Regions from separate parts of the Homo sapiens genome. Here all the other regions are linked to region 2. The links come from fine-mapping of genetic effects on gene expression. Tissue or cell type: whole blood. Region 2 holds a variant in brackets; each other region holds the start of a gene. Each region is shown on its reference strand, or each on the opposite one.

What was found. PIP is the estimated chance that this variant, and not a neighbour inherited with it, causes the effect.
Region 1: it holds the start of PHF24, and the variant in region 2 is the best candidate, but not a certain one, in a credible set for the expression of PHF24 in whole blood (TOPMed, PIP 0.61).
Region 3: it holds the start of EXOC3L1, and the variant in region 2 is the best candidate, but not a certain one, in a credible set for the expression of EXOC3L1 in whole blood (TOPMed, PIP 0.68).

The regions. Positions count from the first base shown.
Region 1 is chr9:34,956,604-34,960,737 of GRCh38, reverse strand. It overlaps PHF24 (PHD finger protein 24), which reads right to left and starts at 2,453. Exons shown (of 8, transcript NM_015297.3): 1 at 2,337-2,453. RefSeq lists a silencer at 2,326-2,405 and an enhancer at 3,755-3,894.
Region 2 is chr7:50,250,090-50,254,223 of GRCh38, reverse strand. No RefSeq gene overlaps it. Among named protein-coding and RNA genes, the nearest start is that of IKZF1, 53 kb to the left of the region's middle. The variant T/C (reference allele first, on the strand shown) is at 1,566.
Region 3 is chr16:67,187,995-67,192,128 of GRCh38, reverse strand. It overlaps EXOC3L1 (exocyst complex component 3 like 1), which reads left to right and starts at 1,993. Exons shown (of 14, transcript NM_178516.4): 1 at 1,993-2,158; 2 at 2,446-2,498; 3 at 2,949-3,109; 4 at 3,189-3,408. The coding sequence starts at 2,453. RefSeq lists enhancers at 13-152, 1-251.

The DNA.
Region 1 (4,134 bases), not on the chromosome of region 2:
GATATCCAAGGTCCAAGATTAGGGGAGAGCCTGGATCCATTTAGTGATTTTTCCAGGGTCATGAGTGGGTGTGATAATAAGCACCCTCAACAAAAGACCAATTTAGGAATAAAACCTCAATGACAAATCAATGATCTGGAACAAAGATCATATCTTCAGGTTTGGTCCTTCTGACTTTCTTTAAATATATGCCTACCTATTTATTCTGATCTGTTAAGCTGATCAGATGGGTTTGAACTGAAAGGGGGATTATAAACAACTTTACAATGGGGAGGTCCTAACCAACAAAAACCTTTGTCGGGCTTTACTCCACTGAGTTGCGCGCAAGGTAGCATCACTGAGTTAAAAGAAAAAAAATCTAACAACTGGTAAACTATGTTGTTCTGTTTTCCCACTAGCTTGGTCTCTCTCCTCACTATGTAATTCCAGGAGCCAAAGGAAGCCACTTCTGTTCAAGGAGGATTTAACTAGGTTTGACTGTGTGGAAGAAAGCAGGGAAGGGGAGCAGGAAAACCCTTCCAGAATGGCTCTAATGAATATCATTGCTTGGCCCTCTCACCACTCCGTTTTTGGACAAGAAACCAGAATCCATCCTTGGAGCTCAAAGTTGAACTCTTGGGATTCAGCTAGAATGAAAACAACGAGGGGGCGAGATGAGGAGGCAACACTATGTCTGGCGCAGACCCTTTGCGCTCCCCCTAACAGACTCCCAGTGAGCCTTCCTTGGCTCTGCACCTTTCCTGTCCTCCTCCTCCTCATGCAGAGGCACTCTTGGGCAAAAGTGTCCTGAGTGCTATCTGTGGACCATTGTCCACCGGTGCATGTAGTCAGAGGGTCACAAGGACAGTGTGGATCGTGCTTCCTAAAAGTGATCCTGTCTCTCCTTTCTCTCCTTCGAGTATTCGGTAGCAGGTAGGGTGGTCTTGGGACACTCCATCCGCAGAAGGGTCCCCCTAGATCCCCAGAGAAAGCCCTGTCAAAAACCACACCCAGAGGCCTCAATTAGGTCCAGAGCCACCCCAAGGCATCATGACAGTGGGACTGCCAGTGAAGGAAGCCACACCCTGAAATCTGGGGATTCTGTGGAAATCAGTTCCTGCAGCAATCTCATGGCCAGTTAAACTGTCCTCATCCACTTATTTAATCATCACATTTACTGAGCTTGTACCACTGCAAAACCCTATGCTCGGCAGGCACCTTAATGCAACTTATTAACAAATATCTATTCTTTCTTCTGCTGCTCCTTAGTACTTTTTCCCAAATAAAATTTGAAAAACATTTTATGATTATGTTTTTCATCAGCTTTGTGACCTTGGGCAAATTGCTAAACCTCTCTGAGTCTCAATGTTTAAAAGGGGATAATTTCACAAAGCTGTTGTAAGAGTTATATGAGATGTTTAAACATACCTAGTATACTGCCTAGCGTACTGGTGCTCAACAATCCCATACATCCTTTATTCCTTCCTTCAAAGGCCTTTCCCTCCAGGACCTGCCAAAGTCAGTTATTCCACCTGATCTTACTGCTTCCTTCCGCACGGTCAAACCTAGGGGCTCAAATCTCCTATCTTTGCTTTAGAGGCCTCACTGGTCCTCATCCTCGGCTTAGGGCCCTGTGCTCTCGCAGCAGTTTCTGTCTCCACTAAAATGCAGCGTGGAGCAACTGGGCTACCATGGAGAAGAAAAATCCGAATGGGGAAAGAGGAGGAATGGAAAGAGGCTGCAGCCCTAGAAGGCCCCCACCTCTGGGCCACGGTGTGGGGATACAAGTAAGGGCACATGGAACCCTACAGGGATCCCGGTGGAGGCCAAAGTCCTTGGAGCCGTGGGAAGTCACTCATGGATCCCATGGGAGGATCCCCCTCCCCAGTCAGAGGTTGCTTCCCACAGTTCTAGGGCACAGTCTCAGGTCCTCCTTTTCTAGGGAGCCCTCTGGGGGCTCCACCACCTCGAGGTTCCTGCGGCTCCCCTATGTTCCCAGGTGGTCTTCCATTGAGCCAGCTCCAGAGACCACCCTTGTGCCTGCTCCCACAGTGACACAGAAGGGCTCTCTGGGGCCAGTCCCCTCCACGCTGGGGCTCCCTATGGCAGCAAATGCAGACAGCGCCGCGGGAGTCCATTCCCACAGGGGGTCTTTATGGGGGCGGCTCCCCACAGCACCTCAGGGACTCCCCCAAGGCGTAGAGGCAGCAGCTACTTGGGGTTCATCCAATGACACAGGGGGGCCACCTTGGAGGCGGCTCCCACACAAGCACCTCAGAGTCCCGGAGGACTGTCCGCGGCCGCAGACCCGCCCCTCAGGTGACGGCCCGGTCCCCGCCGCCCCCGCCCCCGCTTACCGGGACCGTCCGGGTGCGGGACGCGGCTCCGGGGCGGCGGACTCTACACACCGCGGGCCCCGCGCAGCCCACGGCAGCCCGAGAGCCGGCGTGCTGGGCCGAGCGCCGGCAGCAGGCGGCGCGGGCGGAGCGGCAGGCTGAGGAGGCGGCGGCGGCGGCGGCGGCGGCGGCGGCGCGCGCGGCCGGAGCACACCCACCCGCCCCGGGGGGCTGCGGCGTGTGCACCCGCGCGAGGTGCCCTGGGCCGGCCGGTGGGCGCGCCCCGCCCCGCCCAGTCCTCTTGCGCCTCCAGGAGACGCCCTCGCGGCTCCGCGGGCGGCGGGTGACCGGCGACGGGCGCGCGGGCGTGGGGCGCCGTGGGAATGCGGGAGGACGGCGGACGGCTCCGATGAGCAGACGGCCCAGGTGCCCGTGGGCGCCCCCCACGAGCGCCCGGCACTGCGGCGCGGGGACTGCGCCAGCGGCCGACTGCGGCAAGGACAGTGCCCGCCCGGAGGAGGCGGCCCGGAGGGGGCGCCTTGGGGGCGCTGGGGCCGCTCACCGCTCGCGTTCCGCGCCGGGGGTTGGGTGGGGGGAAGGCGGGGTCCGGGTGGATGCCGCCACCAGCACGTGCCCGGGGTGGGGAGAATGACTCATCCAGCAGGGCCTACCAGCCGTCCCCCGCAGGGCTCCGGGCTCACGACCCCTGGCACTGGGGCACTCACCTTTGCAGTACCCCACTGGCCTCCGGAGGGTCCCAACGAACCTTCACATAATCCTCGGCTGGCCCAGCCTACCCTATGCGCTGTTTTCTGGGATTATTGGTTTTTCATCTCCAGCAGCGAGGCTGTGCTGTCGTGTAACCCACTTTTTGCTGCAGCAACCTCATCCCTCACAATATCCAAACAGCTAGCTTGTCAGAAGGCCAGCAATTCTGAGGGCTATAATGTGCATTACACCAAACTACATGCTTTGAAGAGGGCAAGAAAAAGATAAAATCGTAAGATAGCCAGCAACTAATTATAAGGAAAAATTGAAGATATGCAAATGATATGTCGAGAGCCCTTTAATTTATATTAATTGCACTTACATTTTTAAAATACCTTTATTTTCTTGTGCATTCAATTTATTTACCTCAAATATAATGCATGTCATTTTTTTGAGCGTCTAGTATTTGTTACATACTGTGCTAGGTACCCTGGTGCGATATAAAAAAGAAATTTTGCCCTTAACATGGAATTTACCAATAGAGGATATAAGGCAAGTATGGTATATTTCTATCACTTTAAAACACGAAGTGCCAGGTACTATTCTAAATGGTTTAAATATGTTGTCATTAATTTTCACACCATCCCTTTGAGGGAGTCTACTGTTAGTTTCGACATTTTGCCAGTGATGAAACTGAGGCAAAGAGAGGTTAAACAACTCGCCCAAGGTCACATGGCTAATATGTGATGGAGGTGAGACTGAAATTCAGGTATTCTGATTTCATACCGCAAGCTCCTATTTCTCAGTCCTGCCACTGAGAAAGGAGAGGCTATAAACCATTAATATATGGAGTTCTAAAATTAGTACTTATTAGTTCTAAAATTAGTGCTTATTTCTCAAGAGACACTATGGTTATTTTGCTTGTTGTGAAACTAGCACTAAAAAGCAGACTGAGCCTTCCATATAGTCTGGGGGTCCCCCCCTAACTTTCTTTAGAATTACATCATACCGACAGTTTCACAGATAGACTTCTCTGAACTGTTTTTAGTAAGTGTTTTATTTCTAGGCTGTCTGATGGGCTTATATGGAAAAGGAGGTTGTAACATCATCA
Region 2 (4,134 bases):
GAGGTGTCTGGGCCAACTGGGATTAAAGAGGCATCAGTGCAGGAGAGGGAGATTGGTTATGGCCAAGGAGATTAATCAAATAAATATTAAGAATAATGAGAGCTAGTTTCTTATTGTTGGAGAAGGATGTTAGAAATATAAAGGAACCAAACTAAAACTATGGTTCTGAATTGAAATCGAAGCTATCTGTAGATTTGTCCATATTATCACCTATGTGTAGGTATTTATACAATGATATGCCCTAGCTCTGTCTCCAAGAAATAGTAGAAACAGCAACATTCAATAGCAATGAGTACACCTAGATCCAGCTCTTGGTTTTGCAATACCATTTCCACCAAATGGGAACCATGGATCTTTGGAATAATGGTTGATTTCAAAGCTAGAACAGAGAAAATATGACATGAGCTTGGAATAGTTTGCTGTGATAAAGTAAGAAAGTTGTTAAGGTTTGAAAAGGAACACATTAAAAGGACACAGAAGAAAACTTGAAGAGGGTCCCACTGTTCAAATCTAGAAGAATTTAAACATTAAAATACATCAGTATAGTAATGGATTGTAATCCACTGAATTTAATAGGGAACCAATAGTTCATAGTGATATAGACAATAAATAAGTGAACAAATTATAACTTTAATGAGGCATGGGATATTTGCATAGTCTCTCAAAGCAGCTACCCATAAAACCCTCAATTAAAAAGGAAAAAAACAATTTTACAGTGAAGAAACATGACACTTACCACTTTAAGCAATCAAAGTCAACATCACTAGTAATGAAACAAATCGAAACTGTGTTTCACTTGATAGGACACAGCAAGACAAATCACAGCACAGCAAATCATGAGGAGACACCAGGCAAATCCAAATTGGGAGAAATTCCTAAAACACCTGGCCTGTATTCTTCAAACCTGTCAAGAACATGAAAGTCAAGGAGATACTGAGTAACTTTTTCAGGTTGAAGAAGACTAAAGAGAAATTATAACTAAAAGCAATGCATGTTTCTAAACTTGATCCCTTTGCTATAAAGGATATTTTGGACCAAATGACGATACTTGAATTGGGTTTGTGGATTGAATGGCAGTCATATAACAATTTTAGTTTTGTATTTTGATAGACTTATGGAATATGTTTTTGGGTAATTTATTTGTTTTTAGAAAATGTACTCTAGTTTGGGATAGATTGAGCATTATGTCCACAACCTGCCATCAATGATTTGAAGGTACAAACTTTTTAGTAGTGTTCTTGAAACTTATCTCTAAATTTGAGATTGTTTCCAGAAAACATTACTGTAAAAAGAAAGAATATGATCAATTTGGAAAAGTGCACATGGGTCTATATGTTTGTAATGTAAGATACATGAAGAAATAAATATAAGGTACATATTAGGTTTTGAAAAAATAGTGGGAGGTAAAGCTAGAGCTGTATTACAAAGAACCAAATGATTCTTATGTTTGACATTTTAGGATTTTATGGAAAGGAATGTCATGATCTTTCCATAAAGGATGGCATTTTAGAAAACAGCATTCCTGTAGCTTAACAGAAGATAGAAGGAAGAGGGTGGAGACACTT[T/C]AAACAGACAGAGTGACTATTTACAAAGCAAGTTAGAGGCAGACCGGGACTCAGGAAGAGATGCTTCAGATTTTGTGTCCATTGCATACATATTACAATTACAAGCCAGCAAGAACGGTTGGAGGGAATGGGTTAATTCTAAACCAAATTGTAATGGGACAAGGAACAACTGGGAGATAAAGAGTGGCAGATTTGGCAATCATGTATCATAATAGACACCTTGGATTTTTAGTTTTTTAATATACCCAGATCATTCCTAAATCATTCAGAGAAGCACAGCTCTATTGCCAAACATGCAAGGCTGTCCTACTGCCTCAGGCCGGCATGTCACCAGGCAGGCAGAACTGAAGCTGAGAGCCTATGGTTGGGACATTCTGACAAGAGTTGGGGAAAGAATGTTTCAGGTATCTGGTGGTACTTGTGACATTTGTGGGAGGTCTTGGGACCATACCAGCGAGGGCTCAGGATGGCAGATGTTTAATGCCACTCCATAGAGGCAGGTTCTGGAGAGGAGAGATGTGCATCGGAGTCTAGGGAACAGAGCTGAGGTTGGATGTCAACAGCAAACCATTGGGAGGGTCTTAGCAGACAAAGAAGGGAGAGCACATGAGGGCCAGTGACAGTGCAGTCAGAGGTGAGATGATATGCAAGCTGGTCCAATGGACACACCCCCCAACCTGTTATGTGGCTGCCCCTCCTGCTCTCTGTGGCGTCCTGAGCTAATCAGGCAGGAATGGAGACAGGCTGAGCAGAAACAGAGCTTCTCTGTTCCAAGAATGTCCTGGGCCTTTCAGAGGCATTATTGTGCTTAATACTTGCACTAGCCCACCAGGTGGTTATTTAGACTTCATTTATACATAGTAAACCTGAGGCTAGGCGCAGAAGCACAGTACTTAATTCAGTGGGAATCCAATGCTGTCTGACTCCAAAGCCCTAGAACTTGCTTCTGCAGCCCTGGCACTTGGCTCAGATCTACTTACAAGCAAGAAAGCTTGTAGAGTGATGCCCAGGACAATGGCAGAATATGTTCCTTCCATAAAGCTGTCAGAATTATAAAATTCAAGATGATGGAGAATCTTCGTATTTTTACCAGTAATCAATGGTGTATCCTAGAATTTTAGAATTCCAGGACTGGCTGAACTTAGTTGCCAATTTATCATTTTTATTTTTAACTGGTTTGCAAATTGTAGCACACGTAATTGAGGCAACTTCACAATGAGGACATTGGATATTAAAGCTCATGGAGGATCTATTAACTTTTTTTTATTATACTTTAAGTTTTAGGGTACATGTGCACAAGCTGAATGAAATGAAGTTTTAGTTACTTCCTATCAATGCTGTTCTCTCTCCTTCATGAATCTATTGCTTCACAGAAAATGTCTTAAAAGACAGAAAACAAAACAACAATAACGAAAAAACACAACCCCTGTCATCTGTTTTAAAACAGTTCTTATAATAATGATAGTTTACAAACTTGTGTGACTTTCAGATCATAATAAAGCATAATAAGTACTGACTATGCTTGTAATAGTTTAACAATTTAAAAATCATTTTAGTGACTATTTTATCATCATCTAAAATATAATCTCTCACTATGGCTACAAAAATAGATGGCAGCTGGTTTGCACATTACTATGATTTTGTGATATTGTTATTTGAATTAATTTGATCATCAGAGTTTTGGACACTGAATGGATTTTAGGTGCACTAAATGAATACATTGAAAATATAGTCAGTGTGACTGGTTTTGCTTTAACTTGAGGGACTTTGATTTGCACTTAAAACCACTTGGCTTCTTCACTCTTTTGTTGGACTTGCTTTTCATGGTCAAGGAACACCCTTTGTAACACTGGTTACACAACCGCCCTCCTGTGTGTTAGGCACAGAAAGTACTCACTACTCCTCTGTCCCACAATGTCCTAGGCACTTGATATTGTCAATCTTTAAGCTTCTTGCCACTGTAATATAATTGTGGCTTTGATTGGAATTCCCCTGCTTACTAATGAGATTGAGCATCTTTTTCATATTTTATTTTTCTCTTGCATGAAGTACCCATTGAAGTAATTTGTTCACTTCTCCATCGAATTGTCTTTTTTGTATCTATATATTGGGACTCTTTTATATGTTTTAAAAAATACTTGCTCAGTGATCTGTGTTGTAAATATTTTATTCCGATGTGTATCATCTTTTCACGTCTTCATTGTACCTCAATTTTCAGACCAATTGGTTAATCATTTCTGCGAATGTGTTTTTCGACTCTTTAAGAAAGTTTTCCCTATACATGGTAATAGTCTACTACATTGCCTTTCAAAACTTTTATAGTTTTGCTTTTAACATTTATGTCATAAATTTACCTTGAAACGATTTTAGTGTATTATGTGAGATAGGAATCCTAGTTCATTTTCTTCCCTATGTAAAAGTAATTGTTGCTGTCCATTTTCCCATGTTCTTCAATGCTAGCTGTCATAACTGGGTTTCTATTTTTTTGTTAAGTCTGTTTCTGGGTACTCTATTCTGTAAGTATATTTGTTTATCTCTATACAAATAAAACATATCTCAATGATCATAT
Region 3 (4,134 bases), not on the chromosome of region 2:
TACTGCTTCCGCTTCCGTCCCGTGCGCCTTCCAGGGAACGTGGCGCTATTGCTGTCTGTGGGTGCAGCCGCAAAACTTCAGGGACCAGTAGCAAATGTCCAGCCTCCGAATAAGACGAAAACTACCTGGGTAGACCGGGGAGTTGGGATGAAGTTGGGGAGGAATGAGAAGGGCGTCAGTGGGCCGCCCTGGCAGTAGAGAAGGGGACGCCATCGGAACTTTCCTTGCCAATCTGCCCCAACATCACTAACTCTGCCTAGTCCCCATCTTGGGAGAGGAGACCACACTACCTGACTAATCCAATCTGCTCCCTCAAACCTGTTCCTTTTCCATTTTTTTCTCTTTATTTATTCTTTTATATATTTCAAACTCATTTTACTGCCACATCAAACCTGTTCCTAAAGGCTGCCCTACTGTCTTGGGGTCACCCCATCTATTCCTATCCCTCACTTCCTGCCAAACAGCAAGCACTAACTATATCTACCTTGTCCACCTTGTTCCACCCATGGTCCTAGCCTCATCTTTCGCTCGTCTTGTCCTCACAGTACAGTGCTCAGAGACTATGGGGTTATGAACACTTCAGCCAATGCAAACGTGTTTACCTATGTGTAAATATCAGTAAAGCACTCAGTCATTCCTGGCATGCAGGAATGTGTGATACGGTCATTTTGTAACTTTTAACATTGTTACTATTTATTATTGTTTCTTTTAGATCAGGTCCTCTGGGAAATGGGACTCGAGATAGGGTTTTGCAGCAAGTTTGTTGGGGATCCACACTTTTTTTTTTTGAGACAGGGTCTCACTCTGTTGCCCAGGCCGGAGTGCAGTGGCAAGATCAATGCCGTCTCAGCTTCCTGGGCCCAAGCGATTCTCCCACCTCAGCCTCCCAAGTAGCTGGGACCACAGGCATGCACCACCATGCCCGGCTCATTTATTTTTAGTTTTTTAGAGATGTGGGTCTCACTATATTGCCCAGGCTAGTCTTGAACTCGTGGGCTCAAGAGATCCTCCCACCTCAGCCTCCCAGAATGCTGGGATGACCGGTGTGAGCCACCGCACCTGGTCAGGATCCACACCTTTAAGGGATTAAGACAAGCAGAATTGAGCAGATGCAATTATATTATAGGCCTCAGCCTATCCCACTAGGATCTCTGAAATTGGGGTAGCACTTCTGAAGGGTTCATGTTCACACGATGGTACCATGCTTTTGCACCCCAATATTGACTGAGAGACTCAGTGGTGTGATCTCAGTAGCCTACACTCCTGGCAGCTGGAGAATGAGCACTTCTGTCCTGAAGGGTGGATTTGGGTGGTGGACTGAACATCCACTAAATAATTACCACCTTATAGTCCCTTCCCTGGCTCCCTATAACTCTCAAGATAAACACAGCTGCCCAGTTGCGGTGACTCACGCCTGTAATCTCCCAACACTTTGGGAGGCTGAGGCAGGCAGATCGCTTGAGCCCAGAAGGCTGCAGTGAGCTATGGTGGTGCCACTGTACTCCAGCCTTGGTGACAGATCAAGACCCTGTCTAAAACAAAAAAGATAAACACAGCTTTCATGACCCTCTCCTACCACCCCCCACCACACCCCTCTTCACAAGAGCCTGCCACCTCTCACTCCTCCGCAGAGGTACACATCCTCCTCAGAGGCTGGCCAACACAGTTTTCATCCTGTGCTGTTGATGTCGTCTGCATCCATATCTGCACACTCTGCCCACCACCCCAGGTTGAGGCCAAGTCTAGCAAATCCCTATCTCCTCTCCTGAGCACTAAGAGGTTCTGGGTAGGCTGGTCAAGACTGGTTGAGTACAAGTACACCCCACCCCCCCGCCCCTCAGGGAAGTGTCGCCCAGCTGTCCCCACCCTCTGTGCAGACACTCTTTCCTGTTGGGAATAAAATGCCAGAGACTCAGCTTCCTTCCTTTCTGTTGATGGCCTTGGGGAGGGAGGAGCCTCGGTGGGAAGAAGGGGCTTCTGGGTGGGGAGTGGGAGAGAGACTTCCTTGGGGAGAGGAATTCAGCTGCACGCTGGAGTCAGCTGGAGTTGCCCAGGCCCTGTGAGCAAGTGGCAGGCGTGCCCAGCTGCATTGGGGAGAGGGCTGTTCTCAAGGCCAAGGTCATTTTTGGAGGGAGAACTGGACGCCTGATCAAATCTGGTAAGTTCTGTACCAAACTGTCCTGTGCAGCTCAGAGCAGGACCAGGGTCCAGTGGAGGCCTGTGCCCACTCTGTCTCGCTTGACATCTGCAGGGGCACGACTGGGAAACCTAGCAGGCAAAGCCTCCCAGGTGCCCTCCGCATCACACCCGCTCCCTCTCACTTCCCGAGGGGGCCGGGAAGAACCTCCTTCCTCCTCTCAGAAGGGCTTAGACAGAGGCAGCAGCTCACAGGGGCATCTACTCTGCCTGCTTGCCCCGGGCCCACCTCAGCTCTGGCTCCTCCAGGCCCACAATGGACTCAGCAGCCAAGGATGAGATGCAGCCGGCGTTGTCCCCTGGTATGAACCTTTTGGGTGGACTAGGGGAGGAATGATGGCAACAAAGATGGGACTGGCTGGGCGCAGTGGCTCACGCCTGTAATCCCAACACTTTGGGAGGTCAAGATGGGCAGATGACCTGAGGTCAGGAGCTCCAAACCAACCTGGCCAACATAGTGAAACCCCGTCTCTACTAAAAATACAAAAACTAGCTGGGCGTGATGGCACGCGCCTGTAATCCCAGCTCCTCGGGAGACTGAGGCAGGAGAATCGCTTGAACCCGGGAGGCGGAGGTTACAGGGACCCGAGATTGCACCACTGCACTCCAGCCTGGGCAACAGAGCGAGACTCCATCTCAATAAACAAATAAACAAACAAATAAATAAATAAATAAATAAATAAGAAAGCTGGGACTGGGGTCGTTGGGCCCTCCTCCCTGACTACACGGCTGCCCAGGCTCTTCCTTCCCAGGACCTGAGTGGCCAGAGCAGGAGCGGGCAGAGCAGCTGGCCCGGGGTGCAGCGCTCAAGTGGGCCTCAGGCATCTTCTACCGGCCGGAGCAGCTGGCCAGGCTAGGCCAGTACCGCAGCCGCGAGGTGCAGCGTACCTGCTCCCTGGAATCGCGCCTCAAGGTGGGCATGGGGCAGGGGGTGCGGGTGCTGGGACTGTGCTGCAGGGCTGGCCCAGCCTCATGGCTCCATCTTTCCACAGTCAGTGATGCAGTCATACCTGGAAGGCGTGCAGACTGGTGTGTGGCAGCTGGCCCAGGCCATTGAGGTGGTGCAGGGAACCCGGGAGGCCCTGAGCCAGGCCCGTGGGTTGCTCCAGGGCATGTCCCAGGCCTTACAGACTCTAGAGCCCCTACGGGAGCGGGTTGCCCAGCACAAGCAACTGCAGGCCCTGTCTCACCTGCTGCCTCGGCTGCGGGCAGGTGAGCATGCAGGGACCCTGGGCCTCAGCCTCCAATAGTCAGTCCACAAACACCCATCCCTAATCAAGGGGCTGGGGCACTAGATGGGGAACTGCATAGAGCAGCACACCAGGGACCTCCCAGACAGTAGCCCGGGCTTCCCATGGCCTATGAGGCAGCTCATCCTGGGATTCCCACGTGTGGGATGCTTGAGTCAGGACAGACACCCAGTCATGTGACTCTGGCCACCTGGTTATCAGTATATTCAAACTCTTCCCTAACAGAGTGGCTGAGCGAGTACTGGCAGGACCCCCCGATTTCCCCTGCCTTCCCTCCAGGATCCTCAGCTTCCTCATATTCCATGAGTTCATGGGTTGACCTCTGGCCCACCAGGTCTTTAGGACATTGCCAAGATCCTCTTAGATTGGCCAGTACTCTACTGGTTATTTATTTATTTATTTATGGTTTTTTGTTCATTTTTTGTTTTGTTTTGTTTTTGAAACAGAGTCTCACTCTGTCACCCAGGCTGGAGTGCAGTGGTGTGATCTCGGCTCACTGCAACCTCCATATCCCAGGTTCAAGCAATCCTCCTGCCTCAGCCTCCCCAGTAGCTGGGATTACAGGCATGTGCCACCATGCCTGGCTAATTTTTGTATTTTTAGTAGAGATGGGATTTCACCATGTTGGCCGGGCTGGTCTCAAACTCCTGACCTCAAGTGATTCACCCACGTTGGCCTCCCGAAGTGC